5 separate regions of the Homo sapiens genome follow, and regions 2, 3, 4 and 5 are each linked to region 1. The links come from fine-mapping of genetic effects on gene expression. A gene starts in region 1. Each other region holds a variant in brackets. All regions are shown on one strand. Distances are between the middles of the regions. Region 1 holds the start of GDE1 (glycerophosphodiester phosphodiesterase 1). Region 2 overlaps LOC105371114 (a long non-coding RNA gene). Region 3 overlaps TMC5 (transmembrane channel like 5). Region 4 overlaps TMC5 (transmembrane channel like 5). Region 5 holds the start of TMC5-AS1 (TMC5 antisense RNA 1).

Region 1 (5,103 bases):
GTGGCAAAGGCGAAGTAAGCAGCGCTCCTAGGGCCTTGGTTGTGGAAACAGGGGCTCATAAATGGCCAATGCACACCCCGGGGAAGCCTCCCTCTCCAGCACCGTGGGAGGGAGAAGAAAAACGGCCCAAACAATTTGATCACCACGATGGGGTTCTCCGGCTCTGGCCCGAGTTTTATTCACCAGGGACGGCCCCCTGCCCTCTCCCCAGCGCCCCATGCCCACCTCCTCCAGCTCCTCCGATTTAAGACTCCAAACCGAGGGCCCTCCAGGCGGGGCCAGCATCGGAGCATCACCTCAGCGCCCGGTGCTGGCTGCCCCCGGGGTCCCGCCTCCCAACAGCCGGCGCCTTTCCAGGGGGCTCGAGGCCCGGGAGCCCAGCACAGAGCCCGCCCTCAGCTTCTCAGGGCGCCAATTTCGCCTCGCCAGACCACCTCTCAGCCCGGACCCGTCAAGGCTCAAGCCCCCTCCTCATGCACACACCTGATCCCCCACGGCCCCTTCAGCTCCTCTCCCCTCGCCACGGGCCTTGTCAGGAAGCGAATGGCTCAAATGGTACTGACAGAGCGCAGCTCGGTCCGCCGCCGCCTTCTCCTCCTCCTCCCCGCCATATTACGGATCTCAGGCTGCAACGCGGGCTCCTGGCAACCGCCGCCGCTGCCACCCCGACTCCACCTCTCAGGGCCGGCACTTCCGGTGGTTGATTCCCGGGCTGTTAAAACCGTTGGGCCACCAGAACACTACCATCCCCGAGGTGCATTGCGCGCCCGCGATGGAGGACGTAATGCTTACGGCCAGCACGCTGCACGCCGGGAAACGTAGTCTTCCTTGCAAGCTAGAGACTAGAATTTATTAATAAATTTACTTATTTAGTAGAATAGGAACACCCCTCAGGGTCTGAAGCCCCCTGAAGTGTTCCTTGAAGTTGCCATTTTTTTCTTATCTGTATAAAGATAACCCCTTTCTATGCAGCCGTTAGAAAACATGTAACATTCACCAAAATATTTTCTTGTAGGTAAAAACTTGCTGAACCCACCGGGCGTGATGGCTTACGCCTATAATTCCAACATTTTGGAAGCCGAGGCGGAAGGATCGCTTGAGCCCAGGAGTTCGAGATCAGCCTGGGCAACAAAGGGAGACGGCATCTCTACAAAAATTTTAAACGTTAGCCGGGTGGGGTGGCGCGAGCCTGTGATCCCAGCTACTCGGGAGGCTGAGGTCGGAAGATCGCTTGAGCCCAGGAGGTCGACGTTGCAGTGAGCCATGATTGCACCACTGCATTCCAACCTGGGCGATAGAGTGAGACTGTCTGAAAGAAAAAAAAAAAAAGGCTGAATCCTAGATGCCAACTGGAAGGCTTAAGACATCTATCCCCTTTTGCAAATCAGTGGGAAAATGCACTAAAGGAAAAAAAGGTAACAGAAAAATCCCTGAATATTTTTGCAAAGTTCTCTACATAAAAATGTTACCAGCCCTCCAAAATATGTCCAGGGGCCCCTTTTCACTCCCTAACTCGGCTTCATGGTCTATCTCTCTTACCCTCCTTCCAGTGCCTGTTTTTGCATATGTAAAATGGGGGTTTTAAAAGTGCCTATCACAAGGGTGGTTGTGAGGCACAGTTGAGGTAACTCCTGTACAGTGCCTGGTACAAAAGCCCTTAGCAGAAGTAAGATTAGGGGGAGGAGGAGTGAAAATGTCACAAATCACTGGGGAGGCCTTTATGTCAGTCCCCACCCTGCCATTAACTGCTTAATTCACCTATCCTCAGTTTCCGCATCTATGAAATAAGGGAATCCTTAAAACCCCTTCCAGTTTTATAATCCGATTGTGCCTTCTTTGCTAGGCTCTTCCAGTCCCCCAGAATCTGGAAAATAAAGTCGATTGAAATCAGTCTCCTGATAGTAACTGTTAGGCTGTATTGAGAATGAGATAAGCATATAAAGTGTTTGCTCGTCAAGTACCTGGGACATGGTAAGTGCTCTGTAAACGTTAGGTGTACTTGCTAACTTTTATTTCCTCCCACAAGAATGTGAATCCCATAAGAGCAAAAACCCTGTAGGTCCTGTTCAACTGTGTCCGGAGCACCTGGACCGGTATTTGGCACATCTTGAATTGAACTGAACTGAACTGAATTGAATTGAATTGAATTGATAGTCTAAGCATCCTGCCTCTCCAGGTTCCCTGGAATTCAGTTTCCTCAAGGGCAGATAAAGGAGTCACTAAAATCCCTTCCAGTCCTACAGCTTTAGGATGGTTCTTATCCCTCCTTTTCTCGCCTAGGAGTCTGAACGCCCAGGTTGAAGTTCAGACCTCGGAAAACCCTAACCCACCTTAGATTTGGAACGTGAGCCTGGGGCCTGGGGCCTGGGCCCTCCCCCGTTGCCATGGAGCGGCTCCGCCCACTGGCGCTGCGAATCCCGATCCCTGATTGGCTGGGCGGCCGACTCCCTCTCTGGATGTGTCTGCTGCCGCCATTGTGCGGCGCTGGTCCCCTCAGAGGGTTCCTGCTGCTGCCGGTGCCTTGGACCCTCCCCCTCGCTTCTCGTTCTACTGCCCCAGGAGCCCGGCGGGTCCGGGACTCCCGTCCGTGCCGGTGCGGGCGCCGGCATGTGGCTGTGGGAGGACCAGGGCGGCCTCCTGGGCCCTTTCTCCTTCCTGCTGCTAGTGCTGCTGCTGGTGACGCGGAGCCCGGTCAATGCCTGCCTCCTCACCGGCAGCCTCTTCGTTCTACTGCGCGTCTTCAGCTTTGAGCCGGTGCCCTCTTGCAGGGCCCTGCAGGTGCTCAAGCCCCGGGACCGCATTTCTGCCATCGCCCACCGTGGCGGCAGCCACGACGCGCCCGAGAACACGCTGGCGGCCATTCGGCAGGTGAGACCCCCACGTTCGCGCCCCTCGGTCCTCCCGAGAGCTCGGACTTCTACTTTTCCTTCCCAGGGTTCCCCGATCTTCTCAGGACGGCCTTCCCACTTCCTCATTCGTCCACAAGGCACACTCCCGGCCCTTGATCGCTCCCAGTGTCTAGGGATCTCCGGACTTGAGGTTTTATATTTACAGAAGACAGCAGATATGTATATAGTTTCTGTGCGCCTGACGCTAAGGTTACATACAGCCAGGAACAAGGTCAAAAGTGTCCCTGGTTTACAGAGTGTACATCGGAATGGGGGAGGCAAGCCTTAAACAAGTAAACACATAAATGAGATAACTTTAAGAGAGTGAAAGGTGCAATGAAGAAATCGGGGGAACTCGAAGGAAAGAGTTACGCTATTTTATTTAGATGGAATAGTCAAGAGAAATCGTCTCCGAAGAAGCAACATTTGAACAGAAACCGGAATTATAAGGAGCCAGGCAGGTGCAGAAGGTCCTGAGATGGGAATAATATAGGGGTGTTCAGGTAACAGAAGAGGCAGTGTGTGGCCTGACTTCAAGGAAGAGAACAAAGACTGGTGTGTGAATGAAGTAGAAAATGGGTCAGGTCAAATAGGTTCTTGGTCAGTAATTGAGGTTAGTCTAAATAGATCACCCTTCACAAGACATACGTTTGCTTGTCTTGTAAATCACTTGAGTCATTTCCTTATCACCTTTTCCCCAGACACACACATTCGCACTCGCACAACCCTGGCAGCTGGACTCACATCAGTTTCTGCCCCCTCCTTTTCACAAGGCACTCCTGAAACTTTTGATACCTCCCAGCTCTTGGCATTCTCCTAGCTTCATAATAATGACAGCTTACAGAGAGGGCTTTTCAGTGGATTAGGCACTTTTGCATCTGTGTAAATATATCTGATTCTCTTCTTTTTTATTTTTCTCTCTCTTCTTCCTTCCTTCTTCTTCTTTTTTTTTTTTTTACTTTACAGAGTCTCACTCTTTTACCCAGGCTGGAGGGCAGTGGTGCAATCTCCACGCACTGCAACCCCTGCCTCCCGTGTTCAAGCGATTCTCGTGCCTCAGCCTCCGGAGTAGCTGGGATTACAGGCGTGTGCCACCACGCCCAGCTAATTTTTGTATTTTTAGTAGAGATGGGGTTCTGCTATGTTGGCCAGACTGGTCTCAAACTCCTGGCCTCAAAGTGATCCACCCGCCTCGGCCTCCCAAGGTACTAGGATTACAGGCATGAGCCATCATGCCTGGCCTCCCTCATTTCCTTTTTTTTTCTTTTTTTTTTTCTTTTTTTTTAAACGAAGTCTCACTGTCTCCCAGGCTACAGTGCATCGGCGCAACCCCAGCTCACTGCAACCTCTGTATCCCAGGTTCAAGTGATTCTACTGCCTCAACCTCCCGAGTAGCTGCGATTACAGGCATGAGCCACCGTGCCCGGCCAAGATTTATACTTTTAAAGCTGCACTCTGGCCCATGTGGAGAATGTACTGTGGGTGTAATTTCATTCCTTTGCCACTGTTTATAGTAGTGTATCTGTTTTTGGAATACACTCAACTCACATTTATCAAGTTTTTCCTTCTATATCTCATTTATAATCTACCAGAAATTCTAGCACTGTCAGAAATGTATATATGTATGTATACATTCGACTTTACCAATAATTTTATTTATTTATTTATTTTTGAGACAGGGTCTCTCTCTGTCACCCAGGTTTGAGTGCAGTGGGGCGATCTCAACTCACTGCAACTTCCACCTCCCAGGTTGAAGCGATTCTTGTGCCTCAGGCTCCCAAGTAGCTAAGATTACAGATGTACTCCTCCACTCCCAGCTAATTTTTGTTTTTTGTTTTTAGTAGAGATGGTGTTTTGCCATGTTGGCAAGGCTGGTCTCAAACTCCTGACCTCAAGTGATCCACCTGCCTCAGTGGATTACAGAGTGCTGGGATTACAGGCAAAGTGCTGGGATCACAGGCATGAGCCACTGCCTGGCCAGCTTTACCAGTACTTCTATGTTATTCCAGTAATTGAGATAAAAAGATGAATCCCTGGTTCTAATTCACATATTAGTATATATAGGAGATATTGCAAGTTCAGTTCCAGACCTGAGTAAATAGTCAATAAAGCAAATATAGTAATAAAGGGAGTCACAAATTTTTTGGTTTCCCAGTGCATATAAAAGTTATGTTTACACTATATTGTAATCTATTAAGTATTGTGTATGTATATA
Region 2 (5,103 bases), 140 kb after region 1:
CTGCTATAAAGACATACCTGAGACTGGCTAATTTATAAAGAAAAGAGGTTTAATTGGCTCACAGTTCCACAGTCTGTACAGGATGCATGGCTGGGGAGGCCTCAGGAAACTTACAATCATGGCAGAAGGCAAAGGGGAAGCAGGCACATCTGCATGGCAGGAGAAGGAGGAGGAGAGAGGCTTAGGGGAAGTGCTACACACTTTTAAACAAGAAGATCTCAGGAGAACTCTGTCACAAGACACCACTAGAAGGATGATGATAAACCATTAGAAACCACCCCCATGATCCAATCATCTCCCACCAGGCCCCACTTCCAACACTGGGGATTACAATTCAGTATGAGATTTGGATGGGAACACAGAGCCATCACCCAGGAACCACAAAGTGAAGCTACCTGGCATGGGCATTGATGCTGTGGTCTGAAGCATGCCATCTTATTCTTCAGTGATGAAGAAGGAACCCTGCTGTTTGTATAAGAAGGAAAATAATTTTTAAAGGTTACATTCTGTCCAATCAGCAAAGGATGCATTTAAATGTTCAAATCCTACTTCTGACTACATTGGGCTTGGCAGTAATACTCCAGCAATATTTGAAGATCCTGGACTTTTCCATGCTGTTTTGTTTTATTTTATTTTATTTTTATTATTGTTAGAGACAGGGTCTCACTCTGTCATCCAGGCTGGAGTGCAGTAGTGTGATCACAGCTCACTGCAACCTCCACCTCCTGGGTTCAAGAGATTCTCCTGCCTCAGCCTCCTGAGTAGCTCGGGTTACAGTTGTGTGCCATCGCACCCAGATAATTTTCGCATGTTTAGTAGAGACAGGGTTTTGCCATGTTGGCCAGGCTAGTCTCAAACTCCTGGCCTCAAACGATCCTCTTGCCTCAGCCTCCCAAAATGTTGATTACGGGCATGAGCCACCATACCCGGCCTATACTGTAATGTTTTAAATGAGTATTTTTATTCCTTCCTCCATCTTTTATTCTGAAAATTTTCAAACCAACAAAAATTTGCAAGAACAGTACAATAGACAACCACATTCCTTTTATGTAAGTTCACTAATTGTTCACATTTTACCAGACTTGCTTCTTCCTACTTCTCTCTGAGCCATATGAGAGTTAATTACAGACTTTTTGAAACTGCATTCCTGTATTCGTTTCTTGTGACTGCTGCAACAAATTATCATACATTTGTTGGCTAATTCACAAAGCTCCACCATAAATCACATTGCTAAATTATCTGATGTCACCCAAGGATCCAGGTAAATAAAGATGTCCATCTCAGGGGCTTAGAGATCACCCCCCAGGAGCTGGAGGCAAAGGGATAGACCTCTCTGTGAGTAAAGTAATTCTTCACTACATAGTAATGTTCACACTTTTTTTTTTAGATTAGGGTCTGAAATCTTCGGGAGACATCTTTTAGCCTACCTCAATCCCAGCTACTTTTCTAGGTACCTCCTGAGAACAAAGACATCCTCCTAAATGGTCGTCTTCTATTCCTTCAAACAGGAGATTTAAGAGACTGTTGTTTCCTGAAGAACTATCCAATTTCTATTCCTGTAAAATTGTTCCTCTTCTGGGAGTGGGAAGTCTCCTTCAGGAACCTGGTTCATTCTTCTGCTCCTGGAAGAAAAAAACTGAGGTCTCCCTGGCTCAGGTGCAGATCCAAGTCAGGGCCAGGTGCCAGGTGCCAGGTGCCAGGTGCAGCCAGCAGGAAGTGCTGGGTCTTCTCTCTAAGGTCACTGCACAGTCACCACTCGCCTCCATCACATTCCATCTTCCATACGTGGAACAACTGGGTTCCACCCATCCCTTTCCAGATCTGCAGGCTGGGACTGGGGGTGGGGAGGTGGCCTCCAGTAAGGAAGGGAAGAGGGAGGAATTGTCTCACAATAGAAATAGCCATCATTTCCTGACACTTCCTCTGTGCCACAGACTTAAAGATCATTTTTTAAAATTTGAGCATGTATTAGTAATATGTCTATTTAGTAAAAAAAAGGGGTAATCAGTAAAATTTTCCCTGCCCTTGTCCTGAGATGTATGATGCATTTACAAACATATACACATATATTCTTGGTTTTTTAACCCCAAAGGTGGCTTACCTGGCATCTTGTTTTGTTTTGTTTTGTTTTGTTTTGTTTTTGAGACAGTGTCTCACTCTGTCACCCATGCTGGAGTGCAGTGTCATGAGCATGGCTCACTGTAACCTTGAAATCCTGGGCTTAGCAATCCTCCTTCCTTAGACTCCTGAGTAGCCAGGACTGCAAGCATGTGCCACCATCCCTGGCTAATTTTTACTTTTTTATTGTTTGTAGAGATGGGTGTCTTGCTATGTTGCCCAGGCTGGTCTTAAACTCCTGGACTCAGACGAACCTCCTGCCTCAGCCTCCAAAAATTCTGGGGTTATAGGCATGAGCCACTATGTCTAGCTTCCACCTTGCTTTTTCACTTCATAATATACCTTCTATAGGCTGGGCGCAGTGGCTCACACCTGTAATCCCAGCACTTTGGGAGGCCGAGGCCAACGAATCACGAGGTCAGGAGATCGAGACCATGCTGGCTAACATGGTGAAACCCCGTCTCTACCAAAAATACAAAAAATTAGCC[G/A]GTGTGGTGGCGGGCGCCTGTAGTCCCAGCTACTCGGGAGGCTGAGGCAGGAGAATGGCGTGAACTCCGTAGGTGGAGCTTGCAGAGAGCCGAGATTGCGCCACTGCACTCCAGCCTGTGCGACAGAGACTCCATCTCAGAATATTAATAATAATAATAATAAACCTTCTATAAATATAATTTTCTATATATCTACATATAGAGGTAATTGCTGCACAGATGTGTCAAAATTTATTTAATCCATCTCCTATCGATGGAAATATAGGCTGCCTCTAGGCAATTGTTCTTGCCACAGCCCTGAGACCTAAGCTCTAGTCTTATATCCTCATTTTATGGATGAGAAAACAGGCTCAGAAAGGTTGTGGCATGTGGTCCAGCTCACACAGGAAATAATCGGAAACCAGGTTCTCATCCAGTGACCTTACCCTTAACCACAATGAAAATAGCTTTTATTTTGAGCCAGGAAATTACTTACCCACACACATAATTTTCTGTTTTAGAACAGTTTTAGATCTACAGAAAACCTTTGAGGATAAGATAGAGACTGCGGCCCGCAGTCCACCACGGTAGGGCCATGGGGAGTGCTCATAGGGAAGGTGTTCCTGGCATCCGAGGGTGCACGGAGGGAGCCGGGTGCTATAAGCTGTGCCCGGTCACTGCCGCCTCCCACCCTCAGCGCCGGGTGCTCCCAGCTCTGGGGGATAGCAGGTGGTAAGGGTATCTTCCTTATTCCTGCTCCCTCCTCCAAAGTGTCCTCATCCAACCCAGACGGAGCCAGCCGACATCTCAGCTAGCCTCTCAGCCAGACTCTCAGCCAGCCAGCCTCTCACTCAGCCAGGAAGACTGCCCGCTAGCCTCTCGACCAGCTTCTCAGCCAGCCCACCAGCATCTCAGCGGGCCAGCCAGCCTGCTGGCAAGCCTCCAAGACAGCCACTCGGCCAGCCTCCCAGCCTACCCCTCACCCAGCCTCCCAGTCAGCCACTTAGCCGGCCAGCCATTTAAGACTGAGCCCAATCTCTCTCCCATTGCAAAATTTCATTACTATGTTCCCTATACCTATCATGATGGTCCTGAAAAATCTGCCTTACCGTATTTTAACATGTGCCATTGAATAATTTTTTCTTCTACAGAGGTAGATGCTATTATTAGAATCACTTTATAGAGGAGGATAAAGAAGTACAGAGAGTACTGTCTCAGATTCCCTGTCTCAGGTGCCCGGGCTCATGTACAGTCTCAGGTGCACTGCCTCTCTCTTTAGCCAGCTGGTTCCCCAGCCAACGGTGCACCCTAAATCCCCAGGGAATGACAAAGTTGAGAGATTGGGTGAGGCTCAAATGCCATGGATGTTTTTAGTTATGAAGAGCTCAAGTCATCTCTAAACCTCCCAAAAGCCAGGGGTAGTCATTTCACAGAGCAACCAGTATGGTCCTTGAGGTCCCTCAGGCATGAACCTGGCTGTTGACTCTGGGTCTATTATAGAAATTCCAGATGAGAACTCCACTTTCAAGGGCAAGCACCAAGCCCTCACTGCCACTGGTAAGCCCTCTGTTCTTATCAGCAAGCTGTGAGATTATGCAGTTTTTGTGTTTGTTCTCCTTGTGGTAGATGATTTCAAATTACATGAGAATAATTTATGACCAATTTGGGTTGCATTATTCAATCAGGATTGCAGGGGTGGCAGAATCACCAGGTCAGCTCAGGCTTTGGGTATTTCTTTTTTCCTTTTCTTTCTTTTCTTTTTTTTTTTTAAGACATGGTCTTGCTCAGTCTCCCAGGCTGGAGTGCAGTGGCATGCTCATGGCCCACTGCAGCCTCCACCTCCTGGGCTCAAGCAATCCTGCTACCTCAGCCTCCCTAGTACCTGGGACTACAGGTGTGCACCACCATGACTGGCTAATGTTTGTTTTTAGTAGAGACAGGGTTTCACCATGTTCCCAGGCTGGTTTTGAACTCCTGGGCTCAAGCGATACACCTGCCTCGGCCTCCCAAAGTGCAGGTGTGAGCCACCATGCCAGGTGGGTATTTTCATTAAAAAAGGCAAAAGCCCTTGCTGATGGGAGCTGCATCAACTAAAACATGAATTCACCATAATTGGTGATTTTTGCCCCCTGAATCCTAGTCATAGTCCAAGTGAAATAGCAAGACACAAACAGGGGCATTGGCCAACAGCCTAGTTCTGAAGGAGATGGAGCAGATGTGGACACGTGGAGTCAGGCTTCCAGAAGTCATCAGGTGGATGTGTGAAGTCAGGCTTCCAAGGCAGCTCACGCGCATGGCTGTTGGCTGGGGGCCTCAGTTTCTCACCACACTGATATTCCCACAGGGTTGCTTCAGCGTCCTCACAACAGGATGGCTGACTTCCCCAAGAGAGCAGCTCAAGAGAGAGCAAGGAGAAAGACACAACATCTTTAATGATCTATGCTTGGAAGCTATATGTTGCCACTTTTGCAATATCCTACAGATCGCTTAGCTCCATCCAACATGGAAAGGGATCAGA
Region 3 (5,103 bases), 78 kb after region 1:
CCTACTGTGGGCCAGGCACTGTGACACTAGGAAGAGCACCTAGAGCCTTGGAGGGTACATAGATGAATACAGGTTCTCCTTAAGGAGTGAACACTTTATCAGGATGGGGTGACACTGGACAAGTGATTGCCAAGGGCTGCAAACTTTGCCCTACAAAAGATCCCAGAGAAGTGAGCTATACTGACCTGCTTTTTTTGTTTTTTAAGTATTTTATCTTCCAATGTTCTATAGAGCTTTGTGGTCAGGAATCTGTTTGTATTTGCCCTGATTCAACCTAGCAGTAATGCAGGGTAAATAAGAGGTCAGGTTTTGGGTAGAGAGACGGGATTCAATCCTGGCTCTGTCAATTTAGTAAGTGAGTGACCTTGTGCATATTTCTTTCTAAGTCTTAGTTTTCCCATCTGTTAAAACAGGGAGAGTGGCAGTGCCTGCCTGAAAGGCAGTTGTACAGATTAAATGAGATAATAAAAGTCAAGTGCTGGACAGAGACTCCAGGGCATAGGAAACACTCAAGATTTGCTTGCAGTTATACGTTCCACTTGCACTGGAGTAGCACAGTATGTCTCAATCTTGTTTCATTATCAGCCCCTTAAGCAGGGGAGACATTTTTTCCTCATTGCCGTCCTCTAAGAAGTTTTAATACCAAAGATATACTGTATCCGTTTGTGTACTACATGTGTATCCCTGCTTTATACATCAAGAGTGAGATTTTTTTCTGGCCTTTCAAGAGCAGATATTCCCCCCTTGGGATTTCTATTGCCCCTGTGGAGGAATGCTTGGAATAAAGGTTTGGAATAGCCCTGGGCTATCTGATGTCTGTGCTCCCAAAGGAATATTCTCTTTTCTTTTTCCTTCCTTCCTCCCTTCCTTCCTTCCTTCCCTCTCTCCCCCTCCACCTCCCCCCAACTCTTCCCCTCCCCTCCCCTCCCCTCCACTCCCTTCCTTTCCTGTCCTGTCCTGTCCGGTCCTTTCTTTTTTTGCGACAGGGTCTCGCTTTGTCACTCAGGCCAGAGTGCAGTGGTACAGTCATGGCTCACGGCAGCCTCAACCTCCCAGGCTCAAGTGATCCTCCTGTGTCAATCTCCCAAGTAGCTGGGACCCCAGGTGTGTGCCACCACGCCCAGCTAATTTTTAAAATTAGGCCCGGAATGAAAATTTTCTATGTGTTAACAGTCAGTGTTTTCATTAGTACATGGCTATGCATCCTGTCCCCTCCTCTCTGCCTTCTTCCAGACCTGCCCCATCTACTCCTCAAGGCTCATCAATCCTCCATCTGCACCTCCCAGCACTTGGGTCTCTTGTTCTCTTCTTATTGGCTGAACACCTTCTCCCTTTTCTGACTTCCACAGGTTCCAAATTCCTTTAACATGGCCTGGATTTTTTTTTTCTCTTGTGCCATCAAACGGCTTCCTGGAACATGTCTCTTTTTCCTCCTAGAAAGTAAGAACTGTTCAGAATTGGCCCAGGCTCAAGCCTGTAATCCCAGCACTTTGGGAGGCCGAGACTGGAGGATTGCTTGAAGCCAGGAGTTCAAGGCCAGCCCAGGCAACATAGCAAGACCCCATCTTTCTCAAGCATAAAAAAAGTGCCAGGCATGGTGGCATGCAACTGTAGTCCCTGCTACTGGGTAGGCTGAGGTGGGAGGATTGCTTGAGCCTAGGAGTTTGAGGCTGCAGTGAGCTATGATCAGCCTGGGTGACAGAGCAGGACACTGTCTTAAAAAAAAAAAAAACTGTTTAGAATTTCCTTTGCCTCCTGGAGCTAAGCATCTTATCTATACACACAACAAATTATGAGGACAACATGATTTTTCAAATATTAATAGTTTGCTTGCTAACTTTCTTTAGTCTTTTTTTTGTTTGTTTTTAACAGAGTCTCGCTCTACTGCCCAGGCTGGAGTACAGTGGTGCGATCTTGGCTCACTGCAACCTCCGCCTCCTGGGTTCAAGTGATTCTTCTGCCTTAGCCTCCCGAGTATGGCATTACAGGTGCCCTCCACTATGCCTGGCTAATTTTTGTATTTTTAGTAGAGACGGGGTTTCACCATGTTGGCCAGGCTGGTCTCGAACTCCTGACCTCAGGTGATCTGCCCGCCTCGACCTCCCAAGTGCTGGGATTACAGGCGTGAGCCACCACACCCAGCCTTTTCTTTAGTCTTGATGTGGCACTTTTGTTGACCTATTTAGGCTTTAAATAACATGAGGGCAGAGCTACCTCTTAACTCCCTTTTCCCCCAGTAGGTTCTGAACACATACGTGCTGATTGCCTGAATGCCTTTAGGATATGCTAAACTACAGGTGGCCACTGGCAGCTAACAAAAAATGTGGTTTTGTTTGCCCAGCTCACTGTTTTTACTTTTAAAAATTATTTTGGAACAGATCAACATCAGGTTTCACATAAAACCCCAAATACACGGCTTCTGAAAAATATGAAGATCTTGCCACATTGAGCCCACATTGCCACATAACCACCATGGACTGAGCTTCACCAACTCTGGTAGGAACAGAGTGCACAGGTCCCCATTTTCCACAACTCTTACCTAGCATTTTTTTTATAATTGATGACAATTAACTTGGCTTCTCTAAACACTGAATTCTCAACTTTTGTATGTAAAAA[C/A]AAGGGTCTCTGAGATTGGAAGGATACACCAATTCTCCTATTGCCAAGTCTCCTTAATGATTGCACCCCTAAATCCAGTGATTTCAGTTTTTTCCCAGGATATGATCCTGGCTTAACAAATGCTTACCATAGCCACTTCCAGGAGCACCTGGCAGAGAGTGGCCATATGAGTTTGCCATCTCCATGGATGCCATTTCAATGCCTTCAGGGTAATCATTCTCTCCCCAAAGACTGCCCACGGGGTCATCACTCCTGTGACGAAATGAGGGCTGGATTGAAGATGTTCTGCTGAGCACCCTAAAATCCAAAATGATGGATCACTATCCAACCAAGAGTATAGTAAGGATTGTCATCCATCCATCCATCCATCCATCCATCCATTCAATCATGTATTCATCCATTTATTTATCCATCCATTTATCCATCCATCCATCCATCCATCCATGTATCCATCCATTCAATCATGTATTTATCCATCCATTTATCCATCCATCCATCCATTCATCCATCCATTGATTCATCTGTTCATCCATCCATCCATGTACCCATCCATTCATTCATGTATTCATCCATCCATTTATCCATCCATCCATTTACCATCCATCCATCCAACCATACATACATTCATCCATCCATCTATCCGTCCATGTATTCATCTATCCATCCATGTATCCATCCATTCATTAATGTATTCATCCATCCATCCATTCCATTCCATTCCACAAATGCAGACTAAATGCCAACCCTGAGTTAGGCATGGGCTAGAAGGTGAGAATACAAAGAGGAAAACATGGGGTACCTGCCCTCAAGAAGCTCACAGTACAAGTTGGTACAGCTTCTTAGACACAGCTATGAGCAATTATACTACAAGTAGAAACTGGTGAGTATCTGAAGACAGGCCCAAGGAGTTCGGAGGAAAGATAATTCTTGCTGAGAGTTTTGGGAGAAATCTGCATGGAAAAGATACATCTGAGCAGGGATTGAGAAGACACATTCATACATAAAGGGAGGGCATTCCAAGGATGAAGAACAGCATAAAAAAAGGTGTGAGGCCAGAAAGTGCTGAATATATAAAGGAAATGCTATGAAAATCAACTGATGAGTAATGATTCTCAATTTACTACATATACCACTTCCCAAGCCTTGTCCTGGAGAATTGAATCAGAAGTTCTGAAGGTTTGACTGAGGCATCTGTATTATTTTTAAAGTTCCCCAGATAACTGGGTAATGCTAAGGATCAGCCAAAGTCAAGAACCACTGACCTAGAGTATAAGGTCAAGGCAGGGGGCAGACAGGAGACTTAAGAGGAGATCAGTCAGGCTGGTCTTTGGCTGGCATCTTACATTAACACGACGTATCCTTATTCATAAACATTCTATAAGTGAAGTTGGGTGGCCTTTCTCCAAAGGTTATGGGGACCCATGGACGATGAAAAGCAAAGGAGTGATAGGATCAAAGGTGGGCTTTGGAATGATGAATCAGGCAGTGGGTGATAAGACCAAGGAGGACATTTTCACCTGGTCCTGTTAACCCTACTATTTGGGTTCTAAAGACATCAGGACTGCTGCACGCCCAAGTCCTATATCCTTGTTCCTAGAGATAAATACAAGCCACCAGTTTTTTATCAAATTCATAAATATTACTAGTAGAAACAGTAAATGCAAAATCAAACTCATATTGGTTACAACTTCACATGACAAACATTGTTACTGATTAAACCACAAACTGACTTTAAAAAATCACATCTTAGACTGGGCACAGTGGCTCATGCCTGTAATCCCAGCATTTTGAGAGGCCGAGGCAAGCAGATCATTTGAGGTCAGTAGCTCAAGACCAGCCTGGCCAACATGGTGAAACCCTGTCTGTACTAAAACTACAAAAACTAGCTGGGCATGGTGGTGCATGCCTGTAATCCCAGCTACTTGGGAGGCTGAGGCAGGAGAATCACTTGAACCTAAGAGATGGAGGTTGCAGTGAGCCAAAACTGAGCCACTGCACTCCAACCTGGATGACAGAGTGAGACGCTGTCTCAAAAAAAAAAAAAAAAAAAAATTACATTTTGTTGGCAACGTGAACATGAAAAATCTTAACCCAGGAAAAATTAGATTTGGTAGAACTAAGTAACCCAGACTAATGCTGTCGGTGTCCAGAACTGCATTTGGTAAAATTTGTCAAGGAACAAAAATTGACAGAAGATCAAAATCTTTTAGACAAAATTTAGATCTACAGAATCTAAACCTGGAAAAACTGGACTTGCTACTTAAAAATGGCCTTAGGCCAGGTGCAGTGGCTCACGCCTGTAATCCCAGCACTTTGGGAGGCTGAGGCAGGTGGATCACCTCAGATTGGGAGTTTGAGACCAGCCTGACCAACGTGGAGAAACCCTGTCTCTACTAAAGATACAAAATTAGCTGGGCGTGGTGGCGCATGCCTGTAATCCCAGCTACTCAGGAGACTGAGGTAGGAGAATCGCTTGAACCCGGGAGG
Region 4 (5,103 bases), 25 kb after region 1:
ACACATCACCACCAGTTTCATATTTGGTTTGAATAAGACTTTTAATTTACTTTATTTATTTATTTATTTATTTTTTTGAGGCAGAGTCTCACTGTTGCCCAGGCTGGAATGCAGTGGTACAATCTCGCCTCACTGCAACCTCTGCCTCCCAGGTTCAAGCAATTCTCCTGCCTCAGCCTCCCGAGTAGCTGGGATTATAGGCATGTACCACCACGCCCAGCTAGTTTTTTTATTTTTAGTAGAGACGGGGTTTCACCATGTTGGCCAGGCTGGTCTTGAACTCCTGACATTAAGTGATCCGCTTGCCTCAGCCTCCCAAAGTGCCGGGATTACAGGCATAAGCCATCGCACCCAGCTAATTTCTTTTCTTTTCTTTTTTCTTATTCAGTCTCCGTAGAGACTGTCAAAAATTGCCAGCGCTGATTATATTTCAAGTCATCACGGTGGGGTATTGGGAAAATTTCCAATTAGCAATAATCGCGTCTCGGATAAATCTCATTGGCTACGGTACTGCCACTGCAAAGCTAGCTTGACGTAGGACTTTGATGGTCATGTATAACACCTCACAGGGGCAGAACCTCCTCCATCCCCGACTCCAAAGACTCATGTAATCAGTACGCAAGAAAGTTCAGAGATGAGACCTCTGGTTGTATTCCACCTTTGGGACATGGGGGATGTCTTTAGTTCAAAGTCACAAATAAATGCAGGTTCTACAATTCAGAGGCTTCATATCCCTGCTGGAGTATTACATGTTTATTCAGGATGGACCACTTTTCTTAGCAACAGTTTCTAAACCTTTGCCAGGTCTGGGAAGTCTGGCAGGAGAGATTTCTAAGAACCAATCATTCCTGCACACACTTCTTGAAGATAATATACATTATTCCCTAGTTATCTCTTCCTAGGTTTTTGTAGGCTCATTTCAATATTACAACAATCTTTATTGGAAAACCCCAAGTATTTTGTCTTGAAAAATCAGCAATCCAGGTATTAAAAATAGCATGGAATGCCCAATTTTACTTTGATAATTACATGGTAGTCAGTTTCCGCTCCTGGCTAAAGCCTTGGATTTTCTTCTGGGCAGTTCCTAAAGGCACAGGTGGCATGGAAGAAATCATTCCATTTTCGTCTCCTCCCCTTATTTGATTGGTGTCTGGTTACCAAAAGAGTCATCAGGCCCTTGGATTACCTTCTTGAACTGATCTTCTAGATCGCAAGTCTAGGTTTGACACAGGAAAGAGAAGTTAACGCAGGCACACTCTGCCCCATCTCTACAAGGGAAAGACCAGCTTGCCTTCAAGATTCCATAGCTTCTCATGCCTTCTTTGCCTCTTCCTTTTAGTTTCTATAATCCTTCCCTTGAACTCCCATCACTGGAAGTCATCAGTAAATGCTATCCCCCAAAAATAAATGGGTTTGCTTGTTTGTTTCCTGCCCAGAATTCGCTCTCCTGGCATCAGCCCCAGATTTTCTTTAGGAAGTCACCCTTCCCTACTCTTGGTCCCTATGGTCTTCATGGTTGCACCACCTGCATCTACAGATGAAATCATGTGATCAAGGGAACTGCCACATTTTTGCACCCACAACAATTGGTTCATAGACGGGGACATCACCCAGTCAGATCCTATGAAACACCGTGAGAATCCTGGGTCCCTCAGTCTTTCCCACCAGACTGACTCTGAGAAGATATAAGAAGTTGATAAAGCTGTCTTGCACTTATTAGGCAGAGTCTATTGCAAAAGGAACTAACATGGGTAAGAACGGAACTGAAAGAAACCGGGTTCTGGTGACACTGTGAGTTCCTGCGTTAGGCAAGGCCTAAAGCAAGAATTATTCTTGGAATTTTGTTTAAGCCAGTTTGGATCCAATTTGCAACTGAAAAAGTAATGGACACATGAGCAATTCTTACACTTGTCTTAGGATATTTCACCAGAAATAAATTAGTGTCTTATTCTGTCCCAGTTTAATTACTCACCAAGACTGCCATCATGTTCCCCCAAATGCAAAAAGCCTTGTTGCTGAAAAAGAAAAAAACAAGCAGCCACGTCACGGAGGAAGAATGCAGATTCTGGGTCTTGTCACATATTTGGCACAATTTGTGAGCCCCTCACCATTTTATAGAAGTTAAGGGATGAGAGATTAAGGCCAAGTCTCCGCCATAGAAATATTGAACATGTTTTGTTTTTTAGGGAGAGTGATTCCATTCATTCATTCCACAGATACTCTTTTTTTTTTTTTTTTTTTTTTTTTTGACAGAGTCTTGCTTTATCTCCTAGACTGGAGTGGAATGGCATGATCTCGGCTCACTGCAACCTCCGCCTCTCGGGTTCCAGCGATTTTCCCGCCTCAGCCTCTGGAGTAGCTGGGATTATAGGTGCCTGCCACCACGCCCAGCTAATTTTTTTTTTTTATTTTTAGTAGAGACAGGGTTTCACCATGTTGGTCAGGCCGGTCTCAAACTCCTGACCTCAAGTGATCTGTCCACCTCGGCCTCCCAAAGTGCTGGGATTACAGGCGTGAGCCACCGCACCTGGCCGTTCCACAGATATTCACTGAGCATTCATATTATGCCAGGTAATAAATTAGGACGTGGGGTGACAAGTGCACAGACGTGGTCCTCACCTTCAGAGAATCTACCTTTAGGCCTCTAGATCCCTTACCTAAATTGTGCTGACAGTATAAATTTGCACAGATGGTAAATTACTTGTCAGTCACTTCTGTCAAGATCACAATTTCCAACATAAGTGGTATTTGCGTTAAGGTGGATTTACTGTTCATCTGTATTTTCAGGACACTCAGGAAGCAAGCAAGGCTTTGGAATTAGAGCAGGGTTTCATGTATCTTTATATTCTCTTGGTAAGAATGAAATTGATTAAATCTTTTTAAGGGAATGATATAGCAATATCTATTAACATTGTCATGTACGTGCTTTGTGGCAGAAATATTCACAAAAAATAACTTTTTAATTTTTTTTTTTTTTTG[A/G]CACGGAGTCTTGCACTGTTGCCCAGGCTGGAGTGCAATGGTGTGACCTTGGCTCACTGCAATCTCCACCTCCTGGGTCCAAGTGATTTCCTGTGCTTCAGCCTCCCAAGTAGCTGGGATTACAGATGTGCACCACAACACCCAGCTAAGTTTTCTTGTTTGTTTGTTTTTGTTTTTTATATTTTTACTAGAGATGGGTTTCACCATGTTTGCTGGGCTGGTCTCGAACCCCTGACCTCAAGTGATAAGCCCGCCTCGGCCTCCCAAAGTGCTGGGGATCACAGGAGGGAGCCACTGTGCCCAGGGTAATTTTTTTTAGAGAGAGGGTCTTGTTCTGTCTCCCAAGCTGGAGTGCGGTGATGGGATCATAGCTCACTGTAGCCTCAAACTCCTGGGTTTGAGCAGTCCTCTCACCTCAGCTTCCTGAGTAGCTGAGGCTACAGTTGCATGCCACCGTGCCTAATTATTAAAATTTTTTAAGGGATGGGGTCTCGCTATGTTGGTCTTAAACTCCTGGCCTCAAGCAGTCCTCCCCTCCCACCTCAGCCTCCTGAGTAGCTGCGATTATAAACGCACAAAAAATAATTGTAACAAAATGTTTCATTACCTACTGTTTTAAGTATTTAAAAACATAGAAACAACCCAAATATCCAAATATGTACAGAATTAAACATCGTTCAAGATATAGTATTTAGTGGTGGGCTGCGGGGGAGGGAAGTTATGATACTATTTGTATAATATAGCCTCACTTTTGTAATAAACAAGTAAATTAAAGTGTTGGTAGATACAGGTATGTTTGCAGATGCCTAGGGAAATAGATTTGCAAGAATAGACACTGAAGTAGGCCGGGCGCGGTGGCTCACGCCTGTAATCCCAGCACTTTGGGAGGCCGAGGCGGGCGGATCACGAGGTCAGGAGATCGAGACCATCCCGGCTAAAACGGTGAAACCCCGTCTCTACTAAAAATACAAAAAATTAGCCGGGCGTAGTGGCGGGCGCCTGTAGTCCCAGCTACTTGGGAGGCTGAGGCAGGAGAATGGCGTGAACCCGGGAGGCGGAGCTTGCAGTGCGCCGAGATCCCGCCACTGCACTCCAGCCTGGGCGACAGAGCGAGACTCCGTCTCAAAAAAAAAAAAAAAAAAAAAGAATAGACACTGAAGTATTCATAGTGAGATGAGATTTCAGGGCCCTTTTCATCTCAGTGGGATCTACTTCTGTATTATCGGGGTTGTGAAAAACAAGCGTGCAAGTTCCATGAGGGCGGGGGCTTTGTTTTGTTCACCGTAACCCCAGCACCTAGAAAAAGTACAGGCATGAAAAGTGCTGAAAAAATGAATATTACTTTTTTTTGAGACAGAGTGCCACTCTGTCACCTAGGCTGGAGTGCAGTGGCATGATTTTGGCTCACCGCAACCTCCACCTCCTGGGTTCAAGCAATTCTTCTGCCTCAGCCTCCCAAGTAGCTGGGGCTACAGGTGCGTGCCACCACACCCAGCTAACTTTTGTATTTTTAGTAGAGACAGGGTTTCACCATATTGGCCAGGCTGGTCTCAAACTCCTGACCTCTTGATCCACCCGCGTAGGCCTCCCAAAGTGCTGGGATTACAGGCGTGAGCCACTGCACCTGGCCATGAATATTACTTTTTAAGTAAAAACCACAGAAATACTTAAGACAGAGAGTGAAGGGCCCTTCCATGATCCCAAGAGCTTGGTCTGTAGTTCTCTGACGCGCTTTTTACATGGAGGCAAGCTCGTGTCCCAGGGGTCCCCAAGGCAGCCTCCAGACTCACCTCCACCTCTCTCCTTTCCAGAACAAGTGAGCTGGGGTTTGCTTTCTTCTCCATATCCTGCAGCTTGATCAATTTTTCTATCAGGAACATTTTATCTTTGCCCTCCTACCAAGAAGGAAAACAAAACCAGAAAGAAACAAAAATATGAATGAATGATGGTATGGAATTGAGAAAGCAATTGATGGGAAGAACGTCGGTTTTCAGGCAGCTAGGATCCTAGAAGTTGGATGGAGGTTACTGCCATCTTTTGGTGAAAGAAAAGAAACATTTCACAGTAAAACCAAATTATCCCCCAGAGCCTTCCTGCACTGTAATATTCTCCTCTAAAGCAATT
Region 5 (5,103 bases), 32 kb after region 1:
AAATAAAATAAGGCTGGGTGTGATGGCTGTAATCCCAGCACTTTGGGAGGCAGGTGGATCACCTGAGGTCAGCAGTTCGAGACCAGCCTGGCCAACATGGTGAAACCCTGTCTCCACTAAAAATTCAAAAATTAGCTGGGCATGGTGGCAGGCACCTGTAATTCCAGCTACTTGGGAGGTTGGGGCAGGAGAATCGCTTGAACCCTGGAGGCAGAAGTTGCCGTGAGCCGAGATTGCACCACTGCACTCCAGCCTGGGCAACAAGAGCAAAACTCTATCTCAAAATAATAATAATAATCATCATAATTAAAATAAATAAATACTAAGAATAAAAATAAGGGATTTGCTGGGAAGAGAAAGTGTAGATGAAATAAGAATATAAAAACATTGATGGTTGTTAGGGCTGAGAGCAGGGATATGAGAGTTCATTGTAGTATTCTCTTTATTTTGGAGGATGTTTATACAGCGTTTAAAAAGGGTGAGGGCGGACATCAGAGGGATCCAAGGGGACTTACATTAATGATCTGCTCATGGAGCAGCCTTATCATAATCTTCCTTCCCTCTGTGATCTGCCAGTAAAGATAGGTGATGATTCTGGAAGAGGAGAAAAGAAAGAATGACACTCTTGCAAATGTTTTGCAGGCTCTGAATTTCCACTGGATGCAAAGGAACTGGAATCTGTGCTTGCAGATGGATTTGGCCCAAACATGTTTCTGAAAAGTCATGTCAGGGAGAGTTATAGGTTAAATACATTGGAACAATGGTTCCTGAAGGGGGAAATAAGCCCATGCCACAGCTCCTCTTCAGACCAATTAATTGAGCATCTCTGGGCATGTCATCTCCTTAAGAGGAGAAAAGCAGGTATTGCTTTCTTAATAGAATAAGTTAAAAAAAAAGTCCCTAAGATGACCCAGCACGGTGGCTCATGCCTGGAATCCCAGCACTTTGGGAGGCCAAGGCGGGCGGATCACTTGAGGTCAGGAGATCGAGATCATCCTGGCTAACACAGTGAAACCCTGTCTCTATTAAAAATGCAAAAAATTAGCTGGGCGTGGTGGTGGGTGCCTGTAGTCCCAACTACTCGGGAGGCTGAGGCAGGAGAATGGCATGAACCCAGGAGGCGGAACTTGCAGTGTGCTGAGATCGCGCCAGTGCACTCCAGCCTGGGTGACAGTGCGAGACTCTGTCTCAAAAAAAAAAAAAAAAAAAATCCCTAAGACAAGAAGATAGTATATATAACCTTTCCCCCCTTCCCCCAGTGATGGGGTCTTGCTCTGTTGCCCAGGCTGGAGTGCAGTGGCACGATCAGAGAACACTGCAGCCTCAAACTCCTAGGCTCAAGCAATCCTCCCATCTCAGCTTCCCAAGAAGCTCAGACTACAGGCACAAGCCACTGCACCAGGCTAAGTAACTTCAAAAAAACTATCAATGCAAGCTTGGGCAAGGTGGCTAACACCTGTAATCCCAACACTTTGAGAAGCTGAGGCAGGAGGATAATTTGAGGCCAGGAGTTTGAGACCAGCCTGGGCAACACAGGGAGACCCCATTTCTCCAAAAAATTTAAAAATTAGCCAAGTGTAGTGGTGCACACCTGCAAGCCCAGCTACTTGGGGGCTGAGGTGGGAGGATGGCTTGAGCCTGAAAGGTTGAGGTTGCAGCAAGCCATGACCATGCCGCTACAGTCTAGCCTGAGTGAGAGATCATGACCCTGTCTCAACCAAAAAAGAAAGAGAGAAGTAAGGAAGGAAGGAAGGAAGGAGAAGGGGAAGGGAAGGGAAGGGAGGGGAAGGGGAAAGGAAGGGAAGGGAGGGGAAGGGAGAAAGAAGGGGAAGGGAAGGGAGGGGAAGGGAGAAAGAAGGAAGGAAGGAAGGAAGAAAAAATGAAGAGGAAAGGAACGGAACTGAAAGGAAAGGGAAGGGAGAAAGGGAGAAAGAGAGGGAGGGAGGGGAAGGGAAGAGAAGAGAAAAGAAAAAAAGGAAGGGAAGGAAGGAAGGAAGGAAGGAAGGAAGGAAGGAAGGAAGGAAGGAAGGAAAGAAAACTACCTATGCAAGGGTAGAGTCACCCAGAACACTGAGCTATGCTATAGCCATTTGCTTTCCAACCAAACATCCCTACTGCTGTTTCCCTCGAGAGCTCCTGGCTTTCCCTGCTAGATTCCCCGGGTACCACACTCACAGCACAATGAGGGTGAGGATGAAAAAGAAGTGCACACTTCCAATGAGGTTCCGATAGATCCAAACAACCCACAGGTAGCCAGGCCGTGTACTTAGGGTGTCGATCCAGCTGTAGATGGAGTGAATGAAGAGAGGCAGACCTCGAAAAGGGCCACAGTCAGCTGAAGGCTTCAATCTGGTAAAACAAAGATGGAAGAACATCTCTAGCACAAGACTCAGGGATGGTTATTCTAGAATCAGGGTGTCCCTTCTGGGCTCTGGGCCTGAAAACATCAAGTCTTGCCTGATCCAATCACACCCACTTCCCAAAGAAACCCTCTTGCTCTCAGCCTTGCTGGGGTGACCTGTACTCTAAGGACC[T/G]GCTCTCAGATCAGAGCTGACCCAACAGCAGCCAATCCAAAGGCCAAGCAGTGACTTCTGCAGTAACTTGGCTCAATGATATGAATGGGGGCAGTCAGACTTTTTTTCTTAAGAAGTTGAATTAAGGCCAGGCACTATGGCTCATGCCTCTAATCCCAACAGTTTGGGAGGTCAAGGTGGGAGGATTGCTTGAGCCCAGAAGTTCAAGACCAGCCTGGGCAACATAGTGAGACTCCATCTCTACAAAAAAATAATTAGCTGGGCATGGCAGCACATGCCTGTGGTCCTGGCTACATAGGAGGCTGAGGTGGGAGGATCACTTGAGCCCAGGAGGTTGAGGCTATAGTGAGCTGTGATCACACCACTGTACTTCAGCCTGGGCAACAGAGCAAGACCCTGTCTGAAAAAAAAAAAGAAATGAAATTAAAGACAAGTATGGTGGCTCGCCTGCAATTCCAGCACTTTGAGAGGCCAAGGCAGAAGGATCTCTTGAGGCCAAGAGTTCGAGACCAGCCTAGGCAACATAGCAAGACACCCATTTCTAAAAAAAAAAAAAAAAAAAAAATTAGCCAGGCATGCCAGGCGCGGTGGCTCATGCCTGTAATCCCAGCACTTTGGGAGGCCGAGGCGGGTGGATCACAAGGTCAGGAGATCAAGACCATCCTGGCTAACACGGTGAAACCCTGTCTCTACTAAAAATACAAAAAATTAGCTGGGCGTGGTGGCGGGCGCCTGTAGTCCCAGCTACTCAGGAGGCTGAGGCAGGAGAAGGGCGTGAACCTGGGAGGCGGAGCTTGCAGTGAGCCGAGATTGCGCCACTGCACTCCAGCCTGGATGACAGAGTGAGACTCTGTCTCAAAAAAATAAAAAATAAAAAAATAATTAGCCAGGCATGGTGATGTGTGCCTATAGTCCCAGCTACTCGGGAGGCTGAGGTGGGACAATCACGTGAGCCCAGGAGTTTGAGCTGTGATTGCGCCCCTGCATTCCTGCCTGGGTGGCAGAGCAAGGCCCTGTCTCAAAGAAAGAAATTGAATTAAGAAGCATAAAGAGGGAAGCCTGTTAGCTATGGAGGAATGAGCAGAAACTATAGGGCAACAAGGAACTGGTGAGGAAGAGAGAGAAGAGAGTGGATATGCCAAGAGGAGCAAGGGCGTTGTGGAGCAAGGAAGAGAGAGAAGAGAGTGGATATGCCAAGAGGAGCAAGGGTGTTGTGGAGCAAGGAACTGAGAGCCCCAGTTTCACATGTGTCCTAAAAATCATCTCCCTTGTTCATTAATTCATTCAATTGTTCATTCAACCATGGCTTATTCTGTTAAGCACTGTTCTAGTCAGGCTCTGGGGACTTCATATTAAGCAAGTTCCTGCCCTATTGGGATTACATTCTGGTGGGAAAAACGGACAATCGTTGAGTAACAATTAAAGACTCACACAGAGGCATTCCTGATTATGAATGATAGAATGAAGGAAAGAAACTCAGGTCTGAGAGAGAGAAGCAGTGGGGAACTGAGAGCAGACAAGGAGGGCTGTGAAGATCAGATCTTGGAGAGGGCCTTGGAGCTGAGAATCAGAGGGTGGAGAGGAGGCAGCCAAGCAAAGGGAGTGGGAAAAGGACTTCACTCAGAGGACTCTGCCCTTGTTGGGAGGGGCTTGCTGGCTTCCAGGAATGGGGTGAGGGTGGTGGGGCGGGGAACAGTGGAGCCAAAGGGAAGTGGGGTTGGAGAGGTGGGAGGAGCCAGATGAGTCCTGCCTTTCTGTTAATTTAGATGAAGTTCTGTTCTGGATGTGGAGGAACGGGGTGGGGGGGCATCTCCCCATTCTGGGAAGCTTCAGTTCTTGGCAGAAGTGAGAAAGCTACTCCTGACCGTGGGCATCGGATGGGTGGTGATCAAACTAGGATGCATTCCCTCCCTGGCTTTTAGTGTCTGTTGGTTAGCCAGGGAACTTGAGTTAGGCACTGTATTAAGCATGTCTTTTTATTCTGATGTTTTGACATCTGGGGTCTTACTGACTCCAGCTCCCAGGGCTAGCTGCCCTTCCCTGGGCTAGCTTACAAAGCACACCTTTCAAATGCAAACCAACCAATCCAGATCCCACACCCGCAACCGCCCCCTTTATCAGGCTCTCACACTCTGGGCCACCACTCCCCTGCCCTAATCACCCCAGGGCCAGGTGCCAGACAACTCAGGGCGGATCCATATCCCACAGCCTACTGACAAACCAGCCAACCCTAAACCTGCTTCCCCTGCCTTGCCCATTCCTTACCATAGAAAACCACAATAAAGCCTCTAGCCCGTTTCCCCTCACTCCCTCTGCCTCCTGAACAACCCTGATGCTTCCCTGTGTGGTCCCTTGTGGCATAGAGTGCCCCCTCTTCTCAGGAACTGTGAGTAATAAACTATCTTTTTAGTGATGGTCATTCCTGACCTGTTGGGCTTCACCATACCTACATTATTTATTTATTTATTTATTTATTTATTTATTTATTTATTTATTTATTTATTTATTGAGACAGAGTCTCACTCTGTCACCCAGGCTGGAGCGCAATGGTGCAATCTTGGCTCACTGC

What was found.
Region 2: its variant is fine-mapped to the expression of GDE1 in whole blood (TOPMed, PIP above 0.99).
Region 3: its variant is fine-mapped to the expression of GDE1 in whole blood (INTERVAL, PIP above 0.99).
Region 4: its variant is fine-mapped to the expression of GDE1 in whole blood (TOPMed, PIP above 0.99).
Region 5: its variant is fine-mapped to the expression of GDE1 in lung (TOPMed, PIP above 0.99).

The regions. Positions count from the first base shown.
Region 1 is chr16:19,519,469-19,524,571 of GRCh38, reverse strand. It overlaps GDE1 (glycerophosphodiester phosphodiesterase 1), which reads left to right and starts at 2,474. Exons shown (of 6, transcript NM_016641.4): 1 at 2,474-2,868. The coding sequence starts at 2,608. It overlaps CCP110 (centriolar coiled-coil protein 110), which reads right to left and starts at 630. Exons shown (of 14, transcript NM_001323572.2): 1 at 484-630. RefSeq lists a silencer at 2,513-2,682 and enhancers at 2,793-2,962, 2,273-3,007, 3,133-3,192.
Region 2 is chr16:19,381,501-19,386,603 of GRCh38, reverse strand. All of the region lies in intron 1 of LOC105371114 (a long non-coding RNA gene), which reads left to right. Among named protein-coding and RNA genes, the nearest start is that of TMC5, 34 kb to the left of the region's middle. The variant G/A (reference allele first, on the strand shown) is at 2,607.
Region 3 is chr16:19,441,891-19,446,993 of GRCh38, reverse strand. TMC5 (transmembrane channel like 5) reads right to left here. Exons shown (of 22, transcript NM_001261841.2): 4 at 2,744-2,913. Among named protein-coding and RNA genes, the nearest start is that of TMC5, 27 kb to the right of the region's middle. The variant C/A (reference allele first, on the strand shown) is at 2,617.
Region 4 is chr16:19,494,033-19,499,135 of GRCh38, reverse strand. TMC5 (transmembrane channel like 5) reads right to left here. Exons shown (of 22, transcript NM_001261841.2): 20 at 4,770-4,874; 21 at 1,973-2,015; 22 at 23-1,216. The coding sequence ends at 1,170. It also overlaps the pseudogene RNU4-46P. Among named protein-coding and RNA genes, the nearest start is that of TMC5-AS1, 8.7 kb to the right of the region's middle. RefSeq lists a silencer at 2,415-2,626. The variant A/G (reference allele first, on the strand shown) is at 2,980.
Region 5 is chr16:19,487,641-19,492,743 of GRCh38, reverse strand. TMC5 (transmembrane channel like 5) reads right to left here. Exons shown (of 22, transcript NM_001261841.2): 18 at 2,176-2,349; 19 at 516-594. It overlaps TMC5-AS1 (TMC5 antisense RNA 1), which reads left to right and starts at 4,843. Exons shown (of 3, transcript XR_007065016.1): 1 at 4,843-4,920. RefSeq lists an enhancer at 4,048-4,736. The variant T/G (reference allele first, on the strand shown) is at 2,535.